Regions from separate parts of the Homo sapiens genome. Here regions 1, 2 and 4 are each reported to be linked to region 3. Evidence: microRNA targets listed by miRTarBase, many of them from high-throughput screens and not tested one by one. Region 3 holds a microRNA gene; each other region holds the end of a gene's coding sequence.
What was found. Region 3 holds the annotated microRNA hsa-miR-374a-5p (UUAUAAUACAACCUGAUAAGUG, at 1,518-1,539, opposite strand). A microRNA usually pairs through its seed, bases 2 to 8, with sites in the 3' UTR of a target mRNA and lowers its output. Matches are read on the target gene's strand: a 7mer-m8 pairs with bases 2 to 8, a 7mer-A1 pairs with bases 2 to 7 and ends in A, and an 8mer does both.

Region 1 (5,067 bases), not on the chromosome of region 3:
AAAACATTTTCCTTAGAATGTTTCTTCTGTTTCCAATAATGGAAATCAAGAAGAAAAGAAAAAGAAAAAGGGCTTCTTCTCAAGTCTCTGCTGCATCTTAAGCAAAAGTATGATAACTTGTCTTCCAGGTGTCATGGTGTAAGATTTAGGAGCTGGTTCTTTATCCTAAAGGTTGCTATCACCACAGGTCATTCCTGCTTCTCAGGTATCCACCAATTTCTTCATTCTTGAGGTGATTTGTTAGGGAAAAAAGTCTTCCAAATCAAAAGTCAATGTTTGATCCCAAATCTACTTATATCAAAATACAAGTTCACCGTGGCTTGACTTACAGTCCAAACTAAGATAACTGCCTCTTCCTAAAAACCATGGAAATGTACTGCAGCCACACAGGGTCTGGCACACAGATGGCATGAGTAATTATAGAAGTCTGAATCTCTATGGGTGGAATCCTACCACCTACTTTTCATCTTCTACAAGCCTTAGTTTCATTATCTACAAAATGGGAATAATATCATCTACTTTGTTGGGATACTGGGAAGGCCAAATGAAGTCATATATGAAAAGCATTTAGCCTAACGTTTGGTACACAGAAGGCATCAACAAAAAATATTATCGGTTAGCTCCTTAGTAAAAAAGAAAAAAAAAAGTCAATTATTGAAGAAGGCATTGTCTTGTCACTCACAGGTATGAAAACTCTGAGGTGTCATATCCTATCACAGCCTCTGAGAGCACACCACAACTTTCTATGTGTTCTCCACTGTGGGTGATATCTGTAATGAGACCTGCTAAGGAAACAAAGTCGAGAACGATCTACTGAGGAGAATAAACAACAAAGGAAATGCCTTCTCTTTCAAGTTCTGGGTATTTCACAACAAACATGGTGCCTACAGACTAAATAGGGAAGTTCAGTGCAAGGAATGGAAACATTGGATTGTTAGATCTATTACTCCCTCTAGTGGCCACAAACAAGACTGTTTTTATCAAAATCCCAGTTTGGCCAAGATTGCAACTTGGATATGTGTATGTATCAACCTTGAGTTTGAAAAGAAATAACCAGTCTGTATTTTCTGCCTATGTGGGGGGGAAAAAGGGGCCTGATGTTAAGAGAAGCCAGTGCTGTCACAAATTTTATCAGTTTGGTTTTTATTCCCTGAATGAAAATACTAATCAATGAAGAAAAGGCACATGCGAACTTTTCTACTATATTGACTCTCAAGTGAGAACTGAAGATAATCGCCTTTGTTGCTTTATGAAAGGGAATTTTGAAATGAGCATCTTTCTAAAATAGCAATTTTTTACCACAGGGTGATTTACAAGCCAAGGTAATAATTAAATATGCCCAAGACTATGACTATTTTTCTCTGACCAAACCCTTCATTTTTATAATGGGTAATTATAGTAAAAACTTCAATTAACCAGAGCCCTCAATTAACATGTTATCCTCCTCTTGTACTGTATTTTTAGGGCAAAGTAGAAAAATAATCACAAGAAGTTATTCATATGACAGATTTAGTTTGAAAATCTAGATGTGTTATCTAAGTAGGAAAAAAAACCCTGAAAAATTACATTCACACCATAATATATAAAAAACACCTACATATAAATGATATATATATAAATATATATAACTAGATAATAGCTGGAAGGGAATATAATTTTTTTAAATGTGAATATGGACCAGACATGGTGGCTCACGTCTATAATCCTTATGATTTGAAAGGCTGAGGCAAGAGCATCACTTGAATCCAGGATAACACGGTGAGATCCTGTCTCAACAAAAAACAAAGAAACAAAATAGCTGGGTGTGGTGGTGCATGCCTGTAGTCCAAGCTACTTGGGAGGCTAAGGAAGGAAGATCACTTGAGCCCAGGAGTTTGAGGCTGCATTGAGCTATGATCACACCACTGCACTCCAGCCTGGGCGACCATGTCAAAAAGGAAAAAAGGCTGGGCACAGTGGCTTACACCTGTAATCCCAGCACTTTGGGAGGCCGAGGTGGGTGGACTGTTTGAAGTCAGGAGTTCAGGACCAGCCTGACCAACATGGCAAAACTCTGTCTCTACTAAAAATACAAAAATTAGTTGGGCATGGTGCCGCATGCCTGTAATCCCAGTTACTCAACAGGCTGACGCATGAGAATCACTTGAACGTGGGAGGCGGAGGTTGCAGTGAACCAAGTTTGTGCCACTGCACTCCAGACTGGGCAAGAGTGAGACTCCGTTTCAAAAAAAAAAAAAAAAAAGTGAATGTGATAAAATTGTGAACTACTTTCTACTCTTTCTGCTGTTTTTCTATTACATTGTTATTTGTACAACAAATACATTAAAAATCAGAGAGGTACATATCCTGCAACATCTATTCTACATTGATAGAGGCTGCCATACCCATTATCAAGAGACAAAACAGGTCTCTCAGGGAATATCTCCTCTAACATAAGCTGAAAAAAGACAGGTTTTGTATATATATATAATTTTCAACTAATTTGAAAATATATTTATCAGGACATTCTTTATTCAGAAGCATCAATAACTTACCAAGTTTCACTGAAGTATAAAACTCAACAGACCATGAATAGGCTAAGTAACCACCTGTGAATGGAAACCTCATGATACAAGTCCGTATATTTAAAATACTGTTTATTTGTGATTTAACATTAATTAGCATTACATCTAAGAGCAATATCAGATAACATTTATACATTTTTCCACAGGACACAGAGGTTCATTGGCTCATTCTTTATGCCAAAGCAAGTAAATAGAGGCATTAGCAAAAGGTGCAATAGTTCACTGTTATGTTTAAAAAATATTTATGCACATTGCATTCATTTAGATATATATATTTTTAAAAAGTTATGGAAAAGCATAGTTCACAGGTTACTATTTCTACATACATTGTAATACAACATAAATGATGTAGAACATTAAAAAAATCTTCCAATAGAGAGTTAAGCAACTGAAAGTTTCCACCAAGAGATTAAAACACTGATTCCAGTAGTTAGTGAGATCTAGAATGACATTTCCAGGCTCTGGCTCAACTCTGCATTATCATATGCACACAAACAGAGCCAGCTCCAAAACACACTGTAATCAATGTAATTTTTTGCATGCCAACTCACCCTTAAGAAACACTTTGAGTTATTTTTACCCACGATCATTCTGGATCATTGATTTTGCATCGAACTGTGACATCACTTGGGTGAAAGGGGAAACGCCTATATTAAGCCTAGGTTTAAATTTGTATTTACATTAAAAAGAAAGGTCACTGAAAAGATTTTTTTAAATCTGTAAAAATCAAGAAGTGGTAGTTTTCTTACTGGTGGGATTAGACCTGCTGATTTCTTCTAGTGCTGCCCTCTAAAGATACAAAAAATTAGAAAGATTTGACCCTTTTAAAACTCAAATATCAACCAAGAAAGACATTGCTTTTGGCAGAGAAGCAGAATTTTAGAAATTTGGGACATGTTTCCAACAAATCACACTTTGTATCCTATCGTGAATATGAGTCACCATCAAACTAGAATTCTTCTTTTCACATCCCATCTTTTGTCCCCTTAATTTTTCACTTTCCCTTTCATTCTTTTTCATTTGGCTACCTTATGAGACTTTTCTTTACTCATTAGCAATACTAAGAGAAAAATACAGTTTAAGATTCAAATATGAATCTAGATGTACCTTTACATGCTCTAATCCTGTTTTAACACCAAGTCCCTGGATTCTGGAGTTATATTTAAGTATACTCAGTACCAAGCAGCCTTAAGTATGCTCTACTGTGAAAAGATTGGCTAATATGCTTAGGACACTTTTATACTGAACGGTATACAAACATCAACATACAAAATTTTTTTTTTTTTTTTTGCCAGAGTTAAACTAAATAACCCATGTTATGTGTACAAAATCCCCTTTGTTGAAAAATAAGGGGCTTTCTAAACTAATAAAAAAGGAAGTTTTCAAAAATTATAGTTTATTAAAACAACTTTTTTGGCAAACAAAGTTACTTCAGGTGAGGAAATTTTATACTGTGAATAAAATTCCAAATGAATCTTTTCTTAAAACTTTTTAAAAAATTATGTGCCAGTGTATACTAATGCTATAGATTCTTGTCTTAGAAGTTTTTAAAGCATTCTGTTAATGCCCACTGAAACAATGGGACTCCAAAAATATAGTCAATAATCATGATAAAAAATTATAATATGATTATCAAGTGAAGCAGGTATTGAGAAATAAAAATTCTCACTTGCTCACTGGCAATTTCTTTCTAACAGATATTATGGAGAAGGCCTGAAGTAATTCAGACAGATAGCTGTTTATGGTGAATTATAATAATACTTCATGAGGGCAGAGCTAATTAAAACTAGTAATTGCTTAAAATTCAAAGCCATTTCTGGACATATAAAATGAGAGATGAATCTGAAAGTTTTTCTTTTGTAAAACCTCTTTCCAGTTCTTAAAGTCCAGTTTGCTACATCCCCCAATCTGATCTACCATTGCATATTAATGATCAACTTAAATGTGGTATTTAGATGTGCAATGTCACATTGTTATAATAATAATTATAAAAAGACTTTATTTAGGCCTCAACTTTCTCCTTTTTTTTGTTCTTTTTCAGAAAAGAAGGAGTGCGGAATTTCTTCTTTTTCTTGGATGGCGATTTTGAAGGGGAGCCTTCAGGTGACAGGACTTCTTCGATTTTCTCTGGAGACTTAATAGTAATCTCGATGTTTTCTATGGTTGTACTTGTGCTTAACCTACTCACTCGCTTAGCAAGCTCATCTTCAACATCATGCATATCATCCTTGCCATTTACTACCATGACAGGCACTTCCATGGAGATGAAGCTCTTGGAAAACAGCTCATGGTTTTCTACGAAAGGGGAGGGTTTTTTGGGGGTTATTTTACATACTTAACATTTTTGCTCTACTTTACAAAACTGAAATGTTTTAGCAATGTAATAAGGCATTACTTTGATTCCAATGAAGACAGATCATTATTTTAATAAACTGTGATCTATTAGCAAGAAGCTAATTTTCTTTAATGATATAAAGGGGAAAGGAACAAAGTTGTTAAACCA
Region 2 (5,067 bases), not on the chromosome of region 3:
GCTGGAAGGAGCATGCGAGGGGAGTTAGTGTTTCATGGGAACAGTTTAAGTTTTACAAAATGAAAAGTTATGGAGTTGGATTGTGGTGGCTACACATTATGAATAAACTGTACACTTAAAAGTAGTTAGCAGTCTGGGCAACATAGCAAGACCTCGACTGTACAAAAAAAAATTAGCTGGGCATGGATGTGCACACCTGTAGTCTCAGCTATTCGGGAGGCTGAGGTAGGAGGAAAGCCCAGGAGAGCAAGGTTGCAGTGAGCCAGGATCACACTGCTGCACTCCAGCCTGGATGACAGATTGGGATGCTGTTTTAAAAAAAAAAAAAAAAAAGTGGTTAATAGGATGGTAAATTTTCTATGTGTCTTACCACAATTTTTTACAATTTTAAGATGGAAACATGCCAAAAGGACACAAGAGTCACCTTGACAGGTCTTCTGATGTCCAAATTTGAAGTAATTTGAACATCAAATAAATGGTTGCAATGGATTGCGACCCAGACTAGGAGTCCATTAGCTGACACACTGCATCAATGGGGAGGGAAGGCGCCTCCATGCAGGGGCAGGGTGTCGGCAGAAGGAACATTGGACATGGAAGCTCATGGATGGGCAGTGGTGGTGGATTCACATGGAAGTTGTAAGTGAAGGACAAGGATGGAGGGTAGAGGTCTGAAGAGGAACAGGCTGGTCATGTGCTTTGAGGATGCCTCCCCACAAAATACTCCTTGATTACCAAGAGACATAGTGTGACCTGACTGACAGTGGAGCAATCTGCCTGGGTCACCAAGGTTAACAAACTGTATGCCCCTGGAGTGACATACAGAGAAGAGCGCAGCATTTCTGTGGCTTTCCTGCCACAAAAGTGCTGCCTAGGTCTGGTCACCATCATCCAGACCCAGGCTGAGGGTGTACTACAGAGAGGTCTGCGGGCTTCACCCCACTAGGACGTGAAACACAGATGCCGAGAGGACTGATGCAGACAGCAGGAGAAAACTAAAGGCAACACACACCTCTTGACAGGGACCCTGGACCAGGAAAGGACAAGACACTGTTGGGACAGCTGGCGAGATCTGCATGGGGTCCATGGACTGGATGCAGTGTTCACTCCCTGACTTGGGGGAATATCTAAATTTTGAAGAGAGAGGGAGACCAGGGGAGACAATGTACACATAATTTCAGTAAAATGTACCTTTTATCTGTGAAATTATTTTAAAATAAAATTTTAAAAGTTAAAGGACTAGGTGCAGTGACTCACACCTGCAATCCCAGCACTTTGGGAGGATGAGATGACAGGATCACTTGAACCCAGTTGGACTGGCCTGGGCAATGTAGTGAGACCCTCTCTCTTAAAAAAAAAAAAAAATCATTAGCCAGGAATGGTGTCATGTGCCTGTAGTCCCAGCTACTCAGGAAACTGAGGTGGGAGAATCACCTGAGCCCAGTCAAGGCTGCAGTGAGCTGTGATCATGCCACTACACTCCAGTGTGGGTGACAGAGCAGGACACTGTCTTTAAAAAAAAAAGTAGTAAAGAAAGGCTATATACTGCTGGGTGCAGTGGCTCACACCTGTAATCCCAACACTCTGGGAAGTCAAGGCAGGAGGATCGCTTGAGGCCACTGCAACCCAGCCTGGGTAACAGAGCAAGCTACTGTCTCAAAAAGGAAAAAAAAAGCTATATTGTAATGTCTTACTATGCAAAGCTACTCATGAAAAACTTAAGCCAGGCGCAGTGGCTCACACCTGTAATCCCAGCACTTTGGGAGGCCGAGGTGGCCAGATCACTTGAGGTCAGTTCGAGACCAGCCTGGCCAACATGGTGAAATCCCATCTCTACTAAAAATACAAAAATTGGCCAAGCGCACTGGCACGTGCCTATGATCCCAGCTACTCAGGAGGGAGGCTGAGACAAGAGAATTGCCTGAACCCGGGAAGAGGAGGTTGCAGTGATTCCAGATTGCACCACTGCACTCCAGCCTGGGTGACAGAGCCAGACTCCATCTCAAAAAAATAAAAATAAAAAGAAGAAAAACTTACTACTGTTTTTGAACTATAATTTTTTATTGTAATATTTTTAACACTTAATGCTTACTTGAGTGTATTACCAAAGTTACCCCAGGGCACCCCTTCTTCAATGAAGTACCCAGAATGAGTTTTTTTTTTTTTTTTGAGACGGAGTCTCGCTCTGTCGCCCAGGCTGGAGTGCAGTGGCGCGATCTCTGCTCACGGCAAGCTCCGCCTCCCGGGTTCACACCATTCTCCTGCCTCAGCCTCCCGAGTAGCTGGGACTACAGGCACCTGCCACCATGCCCGGCTAATTTTTTTGTATTTTTAGTAGAGGTGGGGTTTCACCGTGTTAGCCAGGATGGTCTCGATCTCCTGACCTCATGATCCACCTGCCTCGGCCCCCCAAAGTGCTGGGATTACAGGTGTGAGCCACTGCGCCCGGCCCAGAATGAATTTTTATAAATAGTCGAAGACACAAAAGATCACACTGGTCGGCTTCCAGTGTTGCCGCCAGCAAGTACGCTCCCTGCGAAAGTGCATCAAGTCAGGGCCCCAGGCTCAGCTTCTCTAAGAACCTTCAGTCTGGGGGAGGGTTGTGATGTGAGTCACAGGTCCATGAATTCTTTTTTTGTTGTTTTTAAAGACGTAAAGACACTTTTTCTCCTTTCACTGCTTTTCTCCTCAAAATGTTGCATTTCCTTCTGCCCTTAGTGTTTTCCATAACCTTCTGATCACTTTCAGTTATTCCGGCAGTACAATCATAGGCTGGCTTTACAGTGAAGCCTTTATAATCTTCTTCCACTTCTTCTAAAATTAAAAAATGAAAACCAACTAGCCCAACCCTCAACCAGGCTGGAACGCATGTCCTCCTCAGTGCTCAGTTATGGTGAGAGATGAGGATGCCCTGGGAAGTGTCCGGCAGTCTCCTCTCAGCTCCTTGGGGTCATTTCTTTGGGTAGCAATGTCAGGTCTGGACGGGGCACAAGTCCCTACATCCAGGTACCCAACATGCCTCTGAGGCAGCAACGCTTCCCAGAGGGGCTGGCCCTGGTCCCCCCACGACGAGCTTCCATCCCCTTACTCACATCTTCCCTTATTTTAGTTACTGCTCAACAGGACCAAACACTTCATTAGTAGCTGTTTATTGATCAATGGTTTGATATAAAGTTATTTCAGATCTTCAGACTTTTGCCCAGATGGAATCACAAGCATTACAAAGTTTTTTTCTTAAAAATAAAAAAAGGATAGGGGCAAGTTGGGAGGGGACCAACCTAGCAGTAGTGGCATTTGAGAATAAATTAACAAAAAAATTTAGTATTACCATTTATTGATGACAAACACTTAAGTTTTACTTACATTCCATGGGGAGAAAAATTCCAGCGTAAACAATGAATGGAAGCAGTACTTAACTCGCAGGGCTACCAGGCTTTCCATACGGACCACACGCAGAGCCTCAGTGCACACACTTCTGTGTACAGTAACACAACATCAAAAGCAACACAGCTGTATACAGAAACGTAGGTCATTCTTTTCAGCCCTAATGGAGATGTAATTAACAGTATCGAGCACTCTGGAAAATCACTCTGCAGGTTTATATGGACTACATGGAGATCATATCCTGTAGTGTAGTGAAAGCTAAGTCCTCAAGAGCCATATGTATAGATACACAATGTTTTTTAATAATCTTTAAAACAGAGATCAAAGTTCATTTAAGTCCTGTTTGCATTAACAAAAATAAAAATGAAATAAAAATGGAACCAAATGATCATCTAAAGTTTAAAATTCCTAAATTGTCCAATTTATACAACTGTGGGAGACTTATTCAAGGTTTTTGAAAGTCCAGGACTGTTTCAGCTGAACCAGAGGGCACACAATTTGCATCACTGAAACTGTCCTGGGTTAGTCAATGAAATAAAAATGTCTAACCACATACACATGGATATGATCTTTGTCGGTTAGATTATTGATAAAGTCAGTCTCAGACAAGTTTCCAAACTGTGCTATTTAACTAGATACAATTGAGAAATTCTCAAATGAAAATTTTATATAGTGTCATATCAATCAAAAGAAAATAATGAAACTAAGAATACAGATCACTGTTGGAAGAGAAAGCAGTGGTGATGGTGTGGGTACTGCAGGAGGTGGTGGGGCCGTGGCACACTAGAAAAGTTGGGTCACGCTGAGTAGGAAGCATTTGATTTTCTCTGGTGCTTTTAGCTCTGGGGCCGGTCAAAGGCCTCTCTCTGGCATGGCTGTCCAGGGTTTGTCCCAATGTGTCTGAGTGAGCCAGCTTGAGAAGGGGTCGTGCCGTTTCTTCTTTCACACAGGGGAAAAAAAAGACCAAACACGGAGGTGCCCAGGGTGTGGATCTGCTGGTGTCCCGGGAGAACCAGCTGGCTGGGCAGCCCTTCTTCCCCACAGGCAGCTGCTATTGCGTAGGGACCGCCAGGTCACCGAGTGGCCATCACAACAAACCCCAGCACAGTCCAGCCCGGCCACAGCCGCCTCCTTGTGTTTCTGTTGTCTTCCCTGCTGCTGCCCACATCCTTTACCCACCGTGTCTCTCGGCCCACTGGAGGTATCAGAAATTCCAAATTTTCAAAGCAGTTTCAGTATTTTCAGTATATATGTTGGGATTTTATAATGGTTCATGGCCAGAAAAGGTTCAGCACCTCCCACACCTTTAAGGAAGAAAAATGAAAATGACACTAGTTTTGAAATGTAAGAGAATTAAAGTACTGTTAAAAATGAAAAGAAATTGGCAAACATCAGGAAGTACAATACTAAAAGCCCCAGTTTATGATAACAAAAGTTTTCCCAGGGTATGCCAGTAAGTAAAATACGCAAGGAGAGTGTGTGTACTTATCTCTGTGGGGGGAAAGGAAGAAAATGAGGGAAGAAATATATGTCTATATTTGTATAAAGAAACATACAGGAAAGATACAGGAGAAACTAGTAAAAATGTGATCTATGGGGGAGGCGGTGGGGAGAATAGGAGGGATGGGATGGGGGCTGTCCGAGGGGAAGATTGTACCTTGTAAAATAATGCAGAGTTCTGACCAT
Region 3 (5,077 bases):
CTAGGCTCACTATCTGTATACATCTAAATAAATGAGTATTTCAGACACCCCACTTCTTCATTTAAAAATTAGTGTTAGGGACCCTCTAAACATTTGCCTCAGCTTACCTTTCTGCCTTATCTCACATTAAGTCCTTATTTCCCATATTCTCATTGCAAAGAACTGTGTAGGAAGGAGGGGGGCAAGGACGAAGGCACCAAAGCATGCTATGTCCACGTGCTTCAAGTTTGAATATAATAAAAGGTATTTCTAGAGTAGAGGTTCAAAGCTTGATGTTGAAGGGCAGGGTATAACTGACTGACTGCAGGACCCTGGGGGAGGTCTTATAATCTTCTACTTTAAAACATGTCTTAGCTGGCTTATCTGTAAAAGAGGAAAAAGACTTGTCACAAGCAATGACAAATGAAGTAAATAAATATGAATTTCTGGTCTGGTGAATGGAATGAGAAATGAAACCATCACTGTCGAGTGATGATCCAGAGTGGGCACAGATCTTTTTCTACAAAGGCTTTGTGGGCCACAATGTCTCCAATATATTTAATGGCAAAAACAGCAACTACTTTTGCACCAACCTAATAGCTACTTAATTGTGCCACTGGGCCGCAAAAGCGGCCCCAGGTAAAACATCGATGAATGAACATGGCTGTGTTCCAATATAGAATGGTATTTACAAAAACAGGTAGCCCATGGGCAATAAAGTTTGCCCACCCTTGGTTTAGAATATGGAGTCTGGTTGGGTGCAGTGGCTCACACCTGTAATCCCAGCACTCTGGGAGGCTGAGGGAGGTAGATCGCTTGAGTCCAGGAGTTCAAGAACAGCCTGGGCACCATAACGAGACCCCTTCTCTACGAAAAATACAAACATTAGCCAGGGGTGGTGGCACACACCTATAGTCCTAACTCAGAATGCTGAGGTGGAAGATCACCTGAGCCTAGGAGTTCGAGGCTGCAGTGACCCGTGTTCGCACCATTGCACTCCAGCCTGGGCAACAGAGTGAGAACCTGTCCCTTAAAAAAAAAAAAAAAAGAAAGAAAAATGCAAAGTCCTATCTAAGAATACTATTTGGATGATTACCTGGGCCCTGAGGATGAGGCCCCAATCTAACAGTTATCACTCAAGTCCCACCAAGAAAGCAAGTGTCAGCAATAGCAACAGTTGCAACATCTGTAAATATCAAGGACTGAAATCCAAACACAAAAATGGCATTGTCTCATGAGAAACTCTTAGGAAGATATATACAGAAATATCAAATTTCTGACCACATGCTTTTTGAAGAAACAGCTGACAATCCAGAGCCTGTGGAGCTCACTTTAGCAGGCACACAATAAATGTTTGCTGATGAGTCATTCATTTATTCATCTAATAAACATTTACTGAGGCCTACTAATGTGCCAGGCTGGGCTCTGGAGATGAAGACACCTTCCTTGCCCTCAAGGAGCTCACAGTCTAACTGATAACAGGAAGAGAGACAGGCATATACACAGACAATTACAATACAATCTGATAAGTGCTATAACACTTATCAGGTTGTATTATAATGGCCGATGTAAAATTTCTTCCCAGGGGGTGCTGCTCCAGGCTGCTGCTGGCTGTAACATCAAGAGAGGTGAGGAACAAATTATAGAAATCAAAGGTTAAATGCTTTTCGGTTATTTCAAATATTCAGGCTTTCCCTAACCCGTGGCCATAGACGGAATTGGGAACTAGACACTGGCATGATGTAAAATGGGACTTCCATGCACAGACTTCCAATAAAGGAACTTCTCAATCCCCTCCTCTAAAATATGAGCTTTTTTTTTTCCTTTTTGCTTATACTCCTCTTAACCTCCCCACCCTACTACCCACATGAGCCTGGTTTAATATCTACAGCTAGCAAAATGCTGAAAAATGGGAGCTTACAACTAACTGGATTAACCCAGTGTAACCGGATAGCAAAAAGCAGTAAGTAATAGCTCATTTGGCACTTCTAAATCCAATAATCCTCATCCTTCACTGGAAAAAAAAAGTTAGAATGTTATTAAATACAAAATAGATAATATACAGATCAGAGTAGGAATAAGTTAGAAAAGTTTATTTAATAAACATAATTAAACAGATTCTCTAAACTAGAAATAACATTCAGTTTCAGGAAACCAGAATTAGACCCCTCCAAGACCTTTGAGAATATCTAATTCACCTATGTATTATAAACAAGAAAAATGAAACAGAGAGATAACACACTCTGCCCACTCCCTTTTCAAAATCATGTGAGTGATAGTAACAGACTCCTTGAGGCAAGATTATTACTGTAATAGTTATTTGGTTCAGATGGTTTTATACAAAGATAAGATGGCATTTTTCTGTGCCTCATACCTTTCTTAATAATACCTAGGTTTTTACTGGCTTTTTTGTCTCTGACCAGCAAATAGGGCTGATAACATCAGCAAGTTGTTGACAGTTATACTGAGATCACTGTTTTGGGACCCAATGTCTCTATGAGGCTGTTATTTAATAAGCTTAACATACTATTTTCCCCTAAAGTTATTTCACTGCTCTTGCCTATACACTGTTCCTTTCTGCCAATTAGCCCACTCCTGGTGCCTTCTCACATGCTAGCGTGTTCCTATTAGCATTTCACATCCCCAAAGCATTTAACAGTATGTATAAATGTGGACACTTCAATATTGCCCATATCCTCCCTCAGACCACTCAGAAATATTTAAAATAAGACCAGTCCCTGAATGGATGGGGGAGAAGGGACCGCTGTTTTGTTTCTTGTCTAAATTAGTTTCTCATTAGGGACAAAATGTTGCCCTGTCTTCTCCCCATGCCCAGAGCCAGGAAGCACCACTGTTGTACAGTACTCAAAAGTGCTTTCCTTTTAGATAAAAAGAAATGGATTTCTGTTTAAAGGTCAGACAAGGCTGGGTAAGGTGGCTTATGCCTGTAATCCCAGCACTTTGGGAGGCGGAGGCAGAAAGATTGCTTGAGCCCAGGAGTTCGAGACCAGCCTGGGCAAGACCTCCACTCTAAAAATAAAAACAAAAATAAGATAGAGGTCAGACAAATGTTATCTCAAAATGGCTACCAAGAACCAGACATGTATCCACACAGCAGTTATATTTGGAATTGCAAACATTTCTTCAGACTCAATGGCAACAAATATTACTGGGAGCATATCTGCAACAAACGACATTTGCAACTTACAAATAACATTCAGGCACAAATTGAATAATTCACAAAAGGAAATAAGAGCTAGTAATTAAGATCTAAAAGTCCAGCCTCACTAATAATCAGAGAACTGTATCACAAAACAAAGATATCGGCCAGGTATGGTGGCTCACCCCTGTAATCCCAGCATTTTGGGAAGCCGGGGTGGGAAAATCACTTGAGCCCAGGAGTTCAAGACAAGCCTGAGCAACATGGCAAAACTCCATCTCTACAAAAAAATTTAAAAATTAGCTGGACATGGTGGCACACACCTGTACTCCCGCTACTCAGGAGGCTGAGGTAGGAGGATCTCTGGAGCCCTGGAAGTTGAGGCTTCAGTGAGCCATGATCACGCCACTGTACTCCAGCCTAGGCGACAGGGGGAGAGCCTGTCTCAGAAAAAAACAAAAACAAAAAAACCCCACAGAGATATCATTCATTCATTTACATATGGAGTCAGCAAAAAAAAAAAAAGCAAAAACATTTTTTATAAGTACCTAAATGACTGGGTACAAAAACTGACATTAATTTTTTGAAAAGTAAATATGCCAATTCTTTATAATGTTCAAATCTTTTGACAAATAACTAATTCTAGAAGTCTCTTCGATAAACAACCCAAAATAAATAATAAAAACCAAATGAAAAGATATTCATTACATAATTTAAAATACTGAAAATCTGTAAAATACTTCCATACAACAGAACATCATGAAACAATGACAATTACAAAGAATGTTTAACATGGACATGCGCATGTTATAATGTTAAAAACAAAACACAATATAAAATAGTACACATATATTATCAACTGCAAAGAAAAATGCAGAGAATGAAGTGAATAAATGTATTAACAATAGTTATCTCTGGGTGGTAAAATCATGGATGTTTTTTCTCCCATGCTTGATAGTTACCCTCAGGCAAAGTTACAATATTTACCAAATTTCTAGACTGAGGGAGCTATTCAAATTTAAACAATAGAATAAAAATCACAAAATAGAAGATAAATTTGTCAAATAATTTCAAATCTCTACTAGCCAAAAATTTAAAGACAAAAATTAAGAGGCAAACAATAACATGGAGTAGGTATTTATAACATTACAAAAGTCTGAATACTAATCTTTATTTACAGAACACAAACAGATAATAATAAACAGTAAACTAAAACTTCAACGCATAAATCAACATAAGATATGAACTATCATTACATGAAAGAAAACTGCTGAGATATATATGGAGGAAGAAAATCCAAACTAATAGGCAAACGAAAAATTAATACTGGTTTTTATCCATTAAAAATTAAAAAACAACAACATTCAGCGCTTGTATGAGTAAAAATTGATACAACCTTTTTAGGAAGAAATTTGGCAATAGATACTGAGAGTTTAAAATGTTCATACCCTTTGATGTACTAACTCCACTTCCACGAATGTATCCTAAGCAAATAATAAAAATAAAACAAATGTATTTTCAGTCTTTTATTACAAGAAAAAAGACAATAACCTTTCCATCACTATTGTATATTTAGATCAACACGAAATACTAATAATGGGTTAAAAAAAAAACTACTGCAGTAAATGACTGGTTAGATGTCTCAAAGCATTAGATCAGACAGAAAATCAGGCAAAACAAGAAGGGTGTGTCCAGCCTGCCGCAGTCGGCCATTTTAGACCCTCTGCAGAACAAAAAGCACAGAAAACAAGGGTAGTTAAGGATAGCCACCCCACTAGGCACCAAATCAACAATTCTTTATCTTTTGTCTCCTAGGTATGTAACCCTGTAGTCTGCACAGTCAGAAACAGAAAACAGGTCTTCTTTCTCAAATGGTTTTGGTTAGTTACAAACAAATTTTGAAATCATAAAAGAAGGTTCCTTTAAATTCGCCCCCTC
Region 4 (5,067 bases), not on the chromosome of region 3:
CCCGAAAGGATGTCCGGAGACACATGGTGGTGCACACTGGAAGAAAGGACTTCCTCTGTCAGTATTGTGCACAGAGATTTGGGCGAAAGGATCACCTGACTCGACATATGAAGAAGAGTCACAATCAAGAGCTTCTGAAGGTCAAAACAGAACCAGTGGATTTCCTTGACCCATTTACCTGCAATGTGTCTGTGCCTATAAAAGACGAGCTCCTTCCGGTGATGTCCTTACCTTCCAGTGAACTGTTATCAAAGCCATTCACAAACACTTTGCAGTTAAACCTCTACAACACTCCATTTCAGTCCATGCAGAGCTCGGGATCTGCCCACCAAATGATCACAACTTTACCTTTGGGAATGACATGCCCAATAGATATGGACACTGTTCATCCCTCTCACCACCTTTCTTTCAAATATCCGTTCAGTTCTACCTCATATGCAATTTCTATTCCTGAAAAAGAACAGCCATTAAAGGGGGAAATTGAGAGTTACCTGATGGAGTTACAAGGTGGCGTGCCCTCTTCATCCCAAGATTCTCAAGCATCGTCATCATCTAAGCTAGGGTTGGATCCTCAGATTGGGTCCCTAGATGATGGTGCAGGAGACCTCTCCCTATCCAAAAGCTCTATCTCCATCAGTGACCCCCTAAACACACCAGCATTGGATTTTTCTCAGTTGTTTAATTTCATACCTTTAAATGGTCCTCCCTATAATCCTCTATCAGTGGGGAGCCTTGGAATGAGCTATTCCCAGGAAGAAGCACATTCTTCTGTTTCCCAGCTCCCCCCACAAACACAGGATCTTCAGGATCCTGCAAACACTATAGGGCTTGGGTCTCTGCACTCACTGTCAGCAGCTTTCACCAGCAGTTTAAGCACAAGTACCACCCTCCCACGTTTCCATCAAGCTTTTCAGTAGGATTCTGGGACATGGATTCATTACAGAAATGTATGTGTAGCTGTGCCCTAGATGACCATTTTTATTTTAGTGCCTACTTTAAAACAGTATAAAAATTTCTGCTTTTGTATAATACAAATTTTCATTAAGCCAGTATAAAATAGAAACTAGCTTTTAAACTGAGCTTTGGAACCATTTGTGTTCAGTTAAGTTTACCTGGGTATTTTGTCCTGATTCACTGCCAATTGTCACATTTTAAGACTTTTTTTTTTCCATATAGGAAAGCCATTATTAGTAGTAAACTTTTACAAATCCCATTTTCAAATTACTTTTAGATCTTAAAATTTTCATTTTTGTCTAATAACAGTGGCTCTACCTTTTGACATCTGGCTCATTAAAAAATTTAGCAATAGAATGTAAATTGTATAAAAAGTTTGTGAATAACTCAAGGGTTTAAATTTTCTTACTAGCTTCTAAATGGATTAATAATCAAGTGCTTCAAATGAATTAAGAGTCCAGTTTCGGAAGATAATAAATGTTTGTTAGATACACCATAATTTCAGATCAGTATATTCTGAAGACTCCCTGTTGTCTGGCTAAAATATTTGCCATCTTTATTATGAGCCTTTAAGGAAAACAAACCCTAAACACAAAGCATCAGTATTTATAGCAAAAAGAGACTCTGTTAGGTGACATGGCATTTCGTGTCACTTAATAGTTGGCCCTAAATTAGTACACAGGATATTTTGTCGTGTTTCATCCTTCTTAACATGCTATCTTTTCATTTAATAATAGTAATAGTGTATGGCATTGGGGTCTTCAGAGTCGATATATAGGTAGATCTCTTTAGTCTTTTCCACCTTTCACATCCAAGGGGTGGGTCAAGTGCAGCCAGCAATTTATTTTCATTGTTGGCCCACGGTTAGTCCATAATCTAGAGCCATTGTGGAACTGCAGCCATGAGGTGTGTTTATCCCACAGTGGATTGACTCAGCCTCTGTGGGTGACAGACTTCTAAGCAGGAAGATAGACGTGAAGCACATGGTTACATTTGGGAACTTGTGTAGGGATCATGGCCCCTGTAGCCAGGGTTAAAAACTGGACTTTTTAGAAGTAAAGTAAAAGCATATCGCTTATATCATTTCTTGCTGAATTTGATATGTTTTTCTTTCCCTTAAGAATCAAAAGCAGAAAACAAAAACAACAGTCCTACTCCGATGTTATCTTTCTGATTCAATGTGAATCCATCTTTCCTTGCAATATTTTGGATGGAGAATTTGAAGTTAAATGCATTAGAAAACTACCTGATGAACTACCACAAAGTTTTAAGTGACTAGAAATATATACAGTAAAATCCCACTTTCATGCATCTCTGGGAAATGATAGGAGTATTGCAAATAAGTTGAGTTTGTAGAGGGTAACAAAGTAAAGTAAAACAAACCTATCTTGGTTAACATGAAAATAACAATTGAGAATATATTATATTCACTGAATAATTATAGGCTTTTCCTCACATTAGACAACCAACATAATCTTCTTAAAGGTCTAATTAATATATTTTTCTAAGGGTCAGTTGGGACATTAACCTAAGAAACATATCTATTAAGCACTTGTTAACACCTTATTTTAGGACCCTTTCCGTTGGGGATGGGGGCAAGGGTGGGAGGTTTTTAGAAGAGTATATATCTCTTTAAAAAAAAACAGAAAGAAAAATATTTCTGAGCACTCATTAGCCCTATATGGAAACTTCTTTCCTTTTTGTAGGGCCAGTTATCACTGCAGATTGCAATGTTTACCAAGAATTTCTAAAAATGAGTGCAGATTACTGAATATAATACATTATTTAAAATATTTGGGAGTAGTATAATTTGTGGAGAAATGTAAATTGTAATAATGTAAATGGGGGCTTCAATATATATATATAATACACACACACACACACATGCACACATACCGCACTTCATAGAATCAAAGTTGCTCTCTGAAGGAGCTTTGGCTCCTGATATTTTATCATGCTCCTATATTTTTTTAATCCTTGGAGCAGTAGTTTTTATACTTATGTATTTAAATTTTATTATGAAAAATTACATTTATTAAAAAAGTGTGTTCCAAAGGCATTAAAATTATATATGTTAATAAGGAAGTACATTTTTAAATTTTTCAAACTGCTCCTAGCTTTTGATTAGGAGAATATTTTTTCTGAAAGTAGGCTTTTCGCTCTGCTTCATTACTGCTTCCTTTAGTTTCTATGAAACAGATTGCTTACCTAAATCTTTAGTTGAATGATTAGTGTTCAATATTGCTTTAATCACCATATAAAAGGAAAAAAATTGGTGACAGAGCACAAATAGAAAACCTATTTTTAAATAGAAATCACAAATAGCAAGTGTGGAAGCACTACTTTATTCTGTTTAAAATGTACTTAAGAAGTCATCAAATTAGTGAACTGAGACATTGGCCTTAGTAGGCTGTATTCACTGCTAATTTAAAAAAGGGAGTACCAGGATTTATTAAGTAAAGCATTTTGGAAATGGGGAATAGCGCCATATATGTATGTATGTGTATGTGTGTGTGTGTGTGTGTATATATACACACACACACACATACTTAAATCTTGCCCTGCATGAAATTCAAATACATGGAGGCACATCTTCAGGGCACCAGTGTTAAAATTTTGGAGTCTTAATTTTCATGTGTACACCTCTTTGCCTGTTCCCACCCCCAGACTTGAAATAACACTTCAGAGTAAGAGGGAATTCAGCTAATTTGTTTTTAAAATTGACTGTAGTGGTCACTAAACCCTTTTTGAGAGAATTTCTATTAAAGATGAGGCAGACTCGCTTATTTGAATTGCACAATGTTCTAACAAGGATGTAACACAGAATTGGCTTTTTTTTCCCTAGAAAAAGATTGTTTGTTTCTATGTCAACTAGATATGATTAAAAATAAGTATTGCCAATGCTGTTTTCATTCTCTAGTGGCCAGAATCATTATCCTTGAAATTTCTGGTAGTGCCTTAGCTTGGTTAAAAAAAAAAAAAAAAAAAAAAAAAAGGGATTAACATTAAATAAAAGTAGTTTAGAATTTGGGCCTCAGACAAGATATTGAACCTCATTCAGTTTCACTTCCACATGTATGTACAAGTTAGGTCACCAAACACGGAAGTGTGAGTGTGGAAGGATCTTGGCACTGTAAGCAATGCTATCCATTGATGTATACAAGTACCTTTATAGTTATCGATCACTGTTAAAACTTTCATTTTAAAATCCTATTACCAAGTTCAGTTTTTTAAAACTTCAATTGTCCTGGCTGATTATGCATCACTCTGTGTGCAACTTTTTTATTTCATTTAGTGTTTCTTTCAAGCTGTGTATTTTTGCCTATTTGTTGCTTGTGCTTTATTTTTCTTAGTCATTTGTGGAATATAGTGATATATTGTGTTAATTTGGACAGTAGCGGTTTTTAAAAACCATATACTGACTGAAACATGAGCCAGAGCCGATTGCTTTATTAAGCTAATAATGAATGTTAAAGAGTACATATTTTCAGGATCGTTCATCTAGTGAGCAATACACATATTATAGGCCAATATTTTTTTAAAAAATAGAGCTTGGTCAACCTCTATACTACACATATTACAAGATATAGCACTTTCAAAATGAATCTAAACCTTTACAGAAACTTTCTTATAGGTTATGCCTTTTATTTTAAGACTTATTATAATTCAAGTGCCATTAGATGATATATATGTAGGCCTTTGATATATAATGCTTTGTGTACAAAAATGGTAGATGGTATTTTAAACAGGTACATTTTTACAGTGTTTTCTTATCAATTTGCTATATTGCACAGAATCAGTGTGTGTCTTTTCATAAGGTTTTACAATGGTTTATTTTTTTACAAGGTTTACGTGTCTCAAAGCACACTGTCTTCCCAGTACGTAAGTTAAAAAATACCAGTTCACCCAAGTTGCTTCTAGCCTACTGAGATCCATGTGACATTGGAGGAGATCTTTTAAATGTTTAGTATTCGTCATTAGCAATGGCTGGCTGTTAGTTCTGGTAAATGTGTGCCTAAGTTGAATTTGTCTTGTTTTTCTCACACTGTGTCAGCAGCCATGTCTACAACACAGATAAGTCTGTTGTGATCACATAGATCTACATAAGTTGTG

Region 1: miRTarBase lists ADD3 as a target of hsa-miR-374a-5p. Seed matches in the 3' UTR shown: 8mer at 4,538-4,545, 8mer at 4,314-4,321 and 8mer at 4,183-4,190.
Region 2: the mRNA of STAU1 is a reported target of hsa-miR-374a-5p. Seed matches in the 3' UTR shown: 7mer-A1 at 4,643-4,649.
Region 4: the mRNA of PLAG1 is a reported target of hsa-miR-374a-5p. Seed matches in the 3' UTR shown: 7mer-m8 at 2,374-2,380, 7mer-m8 at 4,473-4,479 and 8mer at 4,612-4,619.

Annotation. Positions count from the first base shown.
Region 1 is chr10:110,133,118-110,138,184 of GRCh38, reverse strand. It overlaps ADD3 (adducin 3), which reads right to left. Exons shown (of 15, transcript NM_016824.5): 15 at 2,620-4,859. The coding sequence ends at 4,567. Among named protein-coding and RNA genes, the nearest start is that of MXI1, 72 kb to the left of the region's middle.
Region 2 is chr20:49,110,209-49,115,275 of GRCh38, forward strand. STAU1 (staufen double-stranded RNA binding protein 1) reads right to left here. Exons shown (of 14, transcript NM_017453.4): 14 at 3,131-4,685. The coding sequence ends at 4,670. Among named protein-coding and RNA genes, the nearest start is that of CSE1L, 66 kb to the left of the region's middle.
Region 3 is chrX:74,285,808-74,290,884 of GRCh38, forward strand. It overlaps MIR374A (microRNA 374a), which reads right to left and starts at 1,550; the gene lies at 1,479-1,550. The region is part of intron 1 of FTX (FTX transcript, XIST regulator); the gene reads right to left. It overlaps MIR545 (microRNA 545), which reads right to left and starts at 1,402; the gene lies at 1,297-1,402. It overlaps LOC124905199 (a long non-coding RNA gene), which reads right to left. Exons shown (of 2, transcript XR_007068266.1): 2 at 2,058-4,623. RefSeq lists an enhancer at 4,648-5,077.
Region 4 is chr8:56,162,093-56,167,159 of GRCh38, reverse strand. It overlaps PLAG1 (PLAG1 zinc finger), which reads left to right. Exons shown (of 5, transcript NM_002655.3): 5 at 1-5,067. The coding sequence ends at 917. Among named protein-coding and RNA genes, the nearest start is that of PLAG1, 47 kb to the left of the region's middle. RefSeq lists an enhancer at 1-491.